2 linked regions of the Homo sapiens genome follow. The protein of the gene in region 1 interacts with the protein of each later gene in a biochemical or structural test. Each region holds a gene or a part of one and is shown in the gene's direction. Other genes may lie near its edges.

Region 1 (3,817 bases):
ACAGAGCATTGGTTTTAGAACCAAGTATCCTGGGTTATAATCCTGGTTCTGGCATTCACAAGCTGTGTGACCTTGAACAGATTGCTTTCCCTCTCTGGGCCTCCATTTCCTCATCTGTACGATGTAAAGACTGAACCAAATGATGGCTAAGGGTATTTCTGGATCTGAGAACCTTAAAACCTATGTTGGATTCAGGGAGAGGAGGCTGGGAGAGGAGGCGGTATGGATAGTCCTGGTAGTTTTCTGAGAGGCAGTGGCCAGAGTCTCCCGGTCAGAACATCTGCTCTGGTTGATCAGCCCAGCAGGTACTGCGAGAGAGGGTCCTCAGAGAGTCAGCCACACAGAAGGACAGATGCAGCCCCTCACCCAGAGACTCGAAGGCCTGGACAGAGGAGAGAAGATAGAGAACACCTTTTGCCCCCTGCCTCATAAAGCCAAGCGCGACATGGGCAAGGACCAGGCAGGCAGCGGGCCTGCTGGCAGGCAGACGGGTCTTGCCAAACTCCCACTTACTTCCCAGAAGCTCCAGGGCCCCCTGGGAGTGGCTCCACCCAGCTGGCACCCCTCCAAGTTGGGCGCCCACGTCAGCAGGTCCTCACACTCCCTTGCCCTTTCACCCAGTGACAATGGGACAGGCAATGGGGTGGGGGGCACCCTAAGCCGGATACTTGGAGAAGCGTCTGACTGCCTGAGCATGGCCCTCCTGTTACCACCTCTGCTGCAACTGGCTCAGAGCAACGCCTGAGGCTGATGCCCAAGTGAAATGCTCTCCTCCCAAGGCCTCCCGGCCTGGTCGCCCTTCCTGGGTGATGCATTGGCTCCCACGTACCGGAATGAATGCTGAGTCAGAAAGGCCCAGTGGCCTTGGCCAACACCCAAGGCCTCTCTGGACTTCATGACACCAACTGTAATATGAAGATAATCATAATAGTGACCTTGTAAGAAGTTTTTGAGGATTAAGTTAAAAATACATCTGAAGGGTAAGAACTTATTATTCTTAAGCCTCAGCCTGCGGTAGGAAGTGAGATTGAGCCCTGGGGGCATGTGACCCCAAAGAGGAGGCACATCTAGGCCAGGGCTGCCTGGACAGGGCAGTGGCTGTGGTGGAGCATGAGGTGCTGCCTGGGATAAGAGCCTCTGGTTAAGCCTGGATGTGTCATTTGCTTTGAAAGTCACTAAGTTCAACAGGATGAAGGGCAGAGGAAGGGGTTGTCACTTGCAGCTGAAGCTGGGTCCTGAGGAGCTAGGTCTTTGTGGGCTGGGGTAGGAGAGGCGAAGGAGGGCCACGAGGCAGTGTGGGAAGCACTGTGGAGAGGAGGGGCCGGCTTGGCTGGGTGTGGGCTAAGGACGGGTCTCTGGGGTGGCCGCAGGGTATAGCAAAAGAAGGGCAAGGAAGGGATGTGTGGCTCCTTGAAGCTGGGCGCTTTGTGAGCACAGTCACAGTGGGCAGTGAGGCTGCCAGACAGGGGGCACTGGCTTTTCCTAAGAGACGGTGGGCCCAGGGAAGTCACGGCCTATGACAAACACAGGACAAGGGAGCAGTGGTGGCAGAGAGGGGGTGAGGGCCCCTGATGGTGGTATGTGTCTGCCTGACCCCACAGAGATGGCCCTGCCCCCAGGCCCATGCTCTCAGGTCACCCTTCCCCTGTGAGATCCCACGACCACTGCTTCCATCTCGCAAGCTACAGCTTCCAAAGAGCTCTAACGCCCAGTCTCTCCTGTGCTCCTGCAGAGGGCTCTGGCGGGCAGCGAGGGTGGGGGTTAATAGCTCTAGCTCAATCTTCCAGAGTGTAGGAAAGACAAGTGAGCCCAGAGAGGGGTAGGGATTTGTCCAAGGTCACACAGCTATCACGTGGCCAAGCTGGGGCTATGTCCATGCTCCCTACTTCCTGTTGAGCCCCATCCATGGTGCCATGCCCTCCCCTCTCCACCAAGTAGTGCCGGCCTGGAGGACAGGGAAGGACGGGATGAGAAGCAGCTCTGGCTCAGGGCCTGCCCAGTTGTCGAGGTGAGTTGTGGTCTGGCTGCCATGGCCCAGCTGGCGGGCACAATCTGTTCTCACCCTACTGGAGCACAGACGTCCTAAGCACAGTGGCTCTACAGCTCAGCTGTCCAGGTCCCTAGCAAATGGTGACACAGTTACTGGCCCGACGCTGTGGAGGGGGTCAGGGGAGCTGGTTCTAAGGGCAGCCCCAAGCAGCTGTCCCCAGAGCTCCTTGAGCTTTAAGATCCAAATGGCCCTGGGTTGACAGAGGTGCCAGCTTTACTGGAACTGAGCTGCCCTCAAGCCTGGCTGCTCTCTTGGAAACATGACAGTAATCTGGCACTTCACTCATTATTAATCACAGTGAGCCATTATTGAGCACTTGATAGGTACCAGGCTCTGGGCTAAGTGCATTACACACATGATCTTACTTATTCCTCCCCAAAGTCCTGTGAGGCAAGTGTATTATTAACCCCATTTTATAGATGTGGAAACTAAGGCTCAGAGAAATCATGCATACACACACACACACACACACACACAGAGAGAGAGAGAGAGAGAGAGAGAGAGAGAGAGAGACAGTAAGTCCAGGACAGAGTCACACAGTATCCTGCCTTGCAATTTAGTTATCAAACATATTCTGGGCCTCCATAGGTATGGCTGGCAATGTGGAGGTAGAAGCTAGAGAGGAAAGTGACAAGACCCATCAGTGCCACCCCTTCCCCCCAAAGCTAGTGTTTAGCTCTATGTAGTTGGGGATCCTAGAGGACAGGGGGTGGTGGTAATATTGGCCCTGGAATTACAAGCTGAACATTTTCAGTGCCACTCAAATAAGGCAGAGATCATAAGCTGTGAGGAATCCAGGAGGACTGCATGGAAGAAGAAACATTTGGTTAAGATTTGATAAGGCTTAGAATGGAAGAAAATGCCAGCGTCATTTTATTATCATAATTATGTTAATAAAAGTAGTAAATATATCAACAATAAAAGAAGCAGGCCAGCACCAGTAAACACACTTTACAAATGAAGAAACATGTTCAGAGAGTGGGAGTAATTTGCCCAAGGTCACACAGCCACTAGGGCCCTGTCACTAGGGATGAGTTCCCATCCAGGGTCATTTTCCCTCCAGTTAGCCGGAAGAATTCTCAACTTAGGCTTTGGAATGGCTGGTGCAGAGGGAACATTTGCCTCTGCCCTGATCTTGGCTCAGGGTGGGCCAGGGTGGGGGCGGGGTACAGAGAGATTATCTGGCTGATGATAGTAACACACCTGGAAAGACACCGAGGGCTCCTGCTTTGCCAAGGGTAACACCACCTCCCCATGAGGACAGATCCTACATCAGGTCAAGTACAGAGGAAGACCCCAAGGCCTCCAGTTGGAGGCTGATGGGGACCCTGGAACACTCATTCATCCTGCTCTTGCAGGGAGGGGCAGGCAGTCTCCTTTCTTCTGTGGCACAGTGGGCCAGCTGCCCCAGGGAGACTGAAGGGCCCTTGTTGCCAAGCAACCCCACATAAGCTTTGGCTGGCAGCGGGGAATCCACCAAGAAGCCAGCCCTGCCTCAGTCTCCCTTCCTGTACACTGGATCACAGGATGTCAGAAACCATTCAGGGCAACCACCTCACCTTGTAGTCAAGGAAACTGAGGCATGGAGAGGACAAGGACCACGCCCGCAGCCCAGGACACTGAACTAGAATCCAGCTCTCCCAGCTGACCTGTGCCCTCACACTCTCCCTGTGCCTCTAGACAAGTTCTCAGCAGCACCCAGGCCACCCCTTCTCTAGGCATACAAAACAGTCCCGTCATTGAGGTCAAACGGACTCGAGTTCAAAC
Region 2 (3,817 bases), on another chromosome or scaffold:
ATGTAGTGAAACCCCACCTCTACTAAAAATACAAAATCAGCCGAGTGTGGTGGTGCATGCCAGCAGTCCCAGCTACTCGGGTGGCTGAGGAGAATCGCTTGAACCCAGGAGGCAGAGGTTGCAGTGAGCCGAGGTTGCGTCACTGAACTCCAGCCTGGGTGACAGAATGAGACTCCGTCTCCAAACAAATAATCATTTTCAGAGCCTTAAATTGTGATACCATGTATGTAGTAATGAAAGAATTTGTTTTGAAAATACTGGCATTGGCTAGGTGCAGTGGGTCACGCCTGTAAGTCCCAGCACTTTGGGAGGCCAAGGCGGGCAGATCACCTGAGTTTAGGAGTTCAAGACCAGCCTGGCCAAAAATGGCAAAATCCCATCTCTACTAAAAATACAAAAGTTAGCTGTGCATGGTGGCACGTGCCTGTAATCCCAGCTACCTGGGAGGCTAAGGCAGGAGAATCACTTGAACCCTGGAGGTGGAGGTTGCAGTGAACCGAGATCCCACCACTGTACTTCAGCCTGGGTGACAGAGTGAGACTCTGTCTCAAACAAACAGACAAAGCACACAAAAAAACCTGACATTACTACTACTGTTTAAAGTAGCATTTCATGTTTTTATAGCTCAGGATATTAGTGTATTTTTATACTGTGTGGCACAGATTGATATATCAATATTTAAACCAACAGTACATAAAATTAACTCTTCTTGTTTAGTAAATAACTTTTCAATTATTTTATCCAAAAATTACTTATTAAAATTACCGCACTCTGTAAATGGTGATTATTGCAGTGGGGAACTGACTGTGGTGAGTTGATAAGAGATATTCACTGATTGGCATATGGATTTGATAAATTGATAAACTGAAGTCACTAGGATTTTTGTCTATTTCAGAAAAACTTTAAATGAACTCAGTTATGGTTCAGATGAATTCAGTTATGGTTTCAAGTTATGTTGCTGTACATCTTGTTATACACCCCTTTCTCTTGCAACCTATACCATATACAAAATTAGTGCCTGATATTTTTATATAATGCTTTATACTTTTTAAGGTGCCTTCACATGTATCAGGTCTTTTGTTCCTCATAACAGGCCCACTAAAAGAGTTGGTAGTGTTCTTTCTTTTTTTTTTTAGAGACAGGGGTCTCAGTTGGTTGCCCAGGCTGGAATGTAATGGCACAGTCACGGCTCACTGCATCCTGGAACTCTGGGCTCAAGTGATCCTCCCACCTCAGCCTCCTGAGTAGCTGGGACTACAGGTGCACACCACCACACCCAGCCAATTTTTTCTTCTTTTGTAGAGATGAAGTCTTACTATGTTAGAGACTGATTTGCCAGGATAATCTTGAACTCTTGGGATCCTAGGCGTGAGTCACCACATCCAGCCCTGGGTAGTGTTCTTATTGCCCAGTAGAGACCGAAGCTCTCAGGTTAAGTGATTTAACCAAGGTCATGCCACTTGTAAGTAAGTAGCAGAGCTAGTGCTAGATAGAGCCCAAGTCTGACTGCCCTTAGTTTATGTTCTTCCTGTGCAGTGTGTCCTAGTAACAAAGTTAGCAGATTACAGAAGATGTGATATAATCTTTCCCATCCTTCAGTTATCTACTGCTTGATGGGTGCAGCCAAATAGATCATTTAAAATCATATCTTTTGCTTCAGGATTGGTTGAAACAAACATCATACTTACTCTTTCCTGTACTATGGAAAAAACAGGTTTAGTCAAAACCAGAGTTGCTTACAGGACAGTGAAGAGAGGACTTCCTGTATTACAGGATACAGTTGGATTAAGGTCATTAAAACAAACCAGACAATTACTGAGAGAAGTCAAGGACATATATATAGTAAGCATAAACTTTTTTTTTGAGATGGAGTCTCACTCTGTTGCCCACGCTGGAGTCCAGTGGCGTGATCTCGGCCCACTGCAACCTCTGCCTTTTGGTTTCAAGCGATCCTCCTGCCTCAGCCTCCCCAGTAGCTGGGATTACAAATGCCTGCCACCACGCCTGGCTAATTTTTGTATTTTTAGTAGAGATGGGGTTTCACTGTGTTGGTCAGGCTGGTCTCGAACTCCTGACCTCGTGAATTGCCCTCCTCGGCCTCCCAGAGTGCTGGGATTACAGGTGTGAGCCACTGCACCCGGCTAGTAAGCATAAACTTCTAAAGAAATAGTTATTAAGCAGTCTGTATGTGCCAGGCAGGTGAATTAGGCTAATGGAAGAAAACAAAAGCTCTAGAGCCAGATAGATGTGAGCTGGAGTTCTGGCTCTCCACCATCTATTTGCATGTTGCTCTGGGCATATCACTTGCCTTCCCTGACCCTCCATTTCTTCACCCATAAGAAGGGGAAAGTTGTTGTTATGAACATACCTACTCTGGGACTGTTGGGAAGATTACTGGACCAAAATAATATAAAGGCCTTAGCAAAGTACTTAACCCTAGAGGTGTTTGATATATCATCAATATTGTTGATGGCATTTGGAATGAGATGTTTCACATTTAGTATGCTGCTTTCCAGATGGGTTGGAAGAAGATTCACACACGTTTCCTAGGCCCCGAAACCTGACATTTGCTCTTTCTTTTTCTCTTGCTCTTGTTCTAGGGAATGACAATGGATAAAAGTGAGCTGGTACAGAAAGCCAAACTCGCTGAGCAGGCTGAGCGATATGATGATATGGCTGCAGCCATGAAGGCAGTCACAGAACAGGGGCATGAACTCTCCAACGAAGAGAGAAATCTGCTCTCTGTTGCCTACAAGAATGTGGTAGGCGCCCGCCGCTCTTCCTGGCGTGTCATCTCCAGCATTGAGCAGAAAACAGAGAGGAATGAGAAGAAGCAGCAGATGGGCAAAGAGTACCGTGAGAAGATAGAGGCAGAACTGCAGGACATCTGCAATGATGTTCTGGTAAGAGGCCAGTGCTTCTGTTTTGAACAGTGGTTTCTAAATAGTATTAATTTAATGTATAAATGCAGACTCTCAAAACAGCTTATGAGAGAGAGGTGTCTGAATATACTGGAAAGCTGCCAGGTATTTACAACTAATTTTTAAGCATATGATATAATTTGTGTCACCTATTGCCTGATCAGAGGTTGTACATCACTTCTGAGATACTTTCCTCTCCTATCAAAAAGACCTGTGAAAAACAGTGACATTTTTTCAGCCTCCCTCCATCTTTTAAAATTGAGGCCAGATAGACAGGATTTTAATAGATACAGCTACAGATAGGCTATTGTGTATATTAGTCAGAGTAGTGATGTCATCGCCAGTAGGGGAGGGAGATGAAAAAGCTGAGCTGCCTTTCAGCCTCTCCCCAGTCATGCCTTCACACTGTAAAGTCCTGCTTTGGTCTGAAAGTTAGGCACATCCATCAAGTTCGGCATGCATTCCAGAGCCAAATTCAAAGTGTTTTGGGCATTCTCCTCTCCTGTATTTTACATAAACCCTTAGTCAGATGATTGATTCCCTCTGGCCGCCACTTGGGATTGAATGGGAGGGGTACGTACTCCAAAACAAATCATAATCATATTGTCTTTCCCGCACATCCTGAGCCATTGGGAACTTTCTTTTTCTTCCAGGTGAAATCAGGTAAAAATGAACTCAGCGAGGGCTGCTTTGAAGGGAAAAGGAATTCACACTTGGGGACCTACCACCTTCCCTGCTGGCTGCCTTTCTAAATTACTGCCCATGACTCCTTTCTTTTGAAAACCAGTATAAAGCTTGTCAGCCATCAGGCAGCACCCCTTATCCCTAACCTATTAGGAGTTACACACTGTCTGTCTACAAAGAATATTAAAACGACTGCCGCCCCCTGCATCTTC

What was found.
Region 2: the proteins of KCNK3 (region 1) and YWHAB form a complex in vitro, tested with the Homo sapiens proteins (one study listed by BioGRID and IntAct).

The regions. Positions count from the first base shown.
Region 1 is NC_000002.12:26,723,581-26,727,397, forward strand, and holds part of KCNK3 (potassium channel subfamily K member 3), read left to right. Parts: exon of another isoform or gene 1-980; intron 981-3,817. UniProt on the Homo sapiens protein: K(+) channel that conducts voltage-dependent outward rectifying currents upon membrane depolarization. Voltage sensing is coupled to K(+) electrochemical gradient in an 'ion flux gating' mode where outward but not inward ion flow opens the gate.
Region 2 is NC_000020.11:44,898,931-44,902,747, forward strand, and holds part of YWHAB (14-3-3 protein beta/alpha), read left to right. Parts: intron 1-2,600; 5' UTR 2,601-2,603; coding exon 2,604-2,903; intron 2,904-3,817. UniProt on the Homo sapiens protein: Adapter protein implicated in the regulation of a large spectrum of both general and specialized signaling pathways. Binds to a large number of partners, usually by recognition of a phosphoserine or phosphothreonine motif.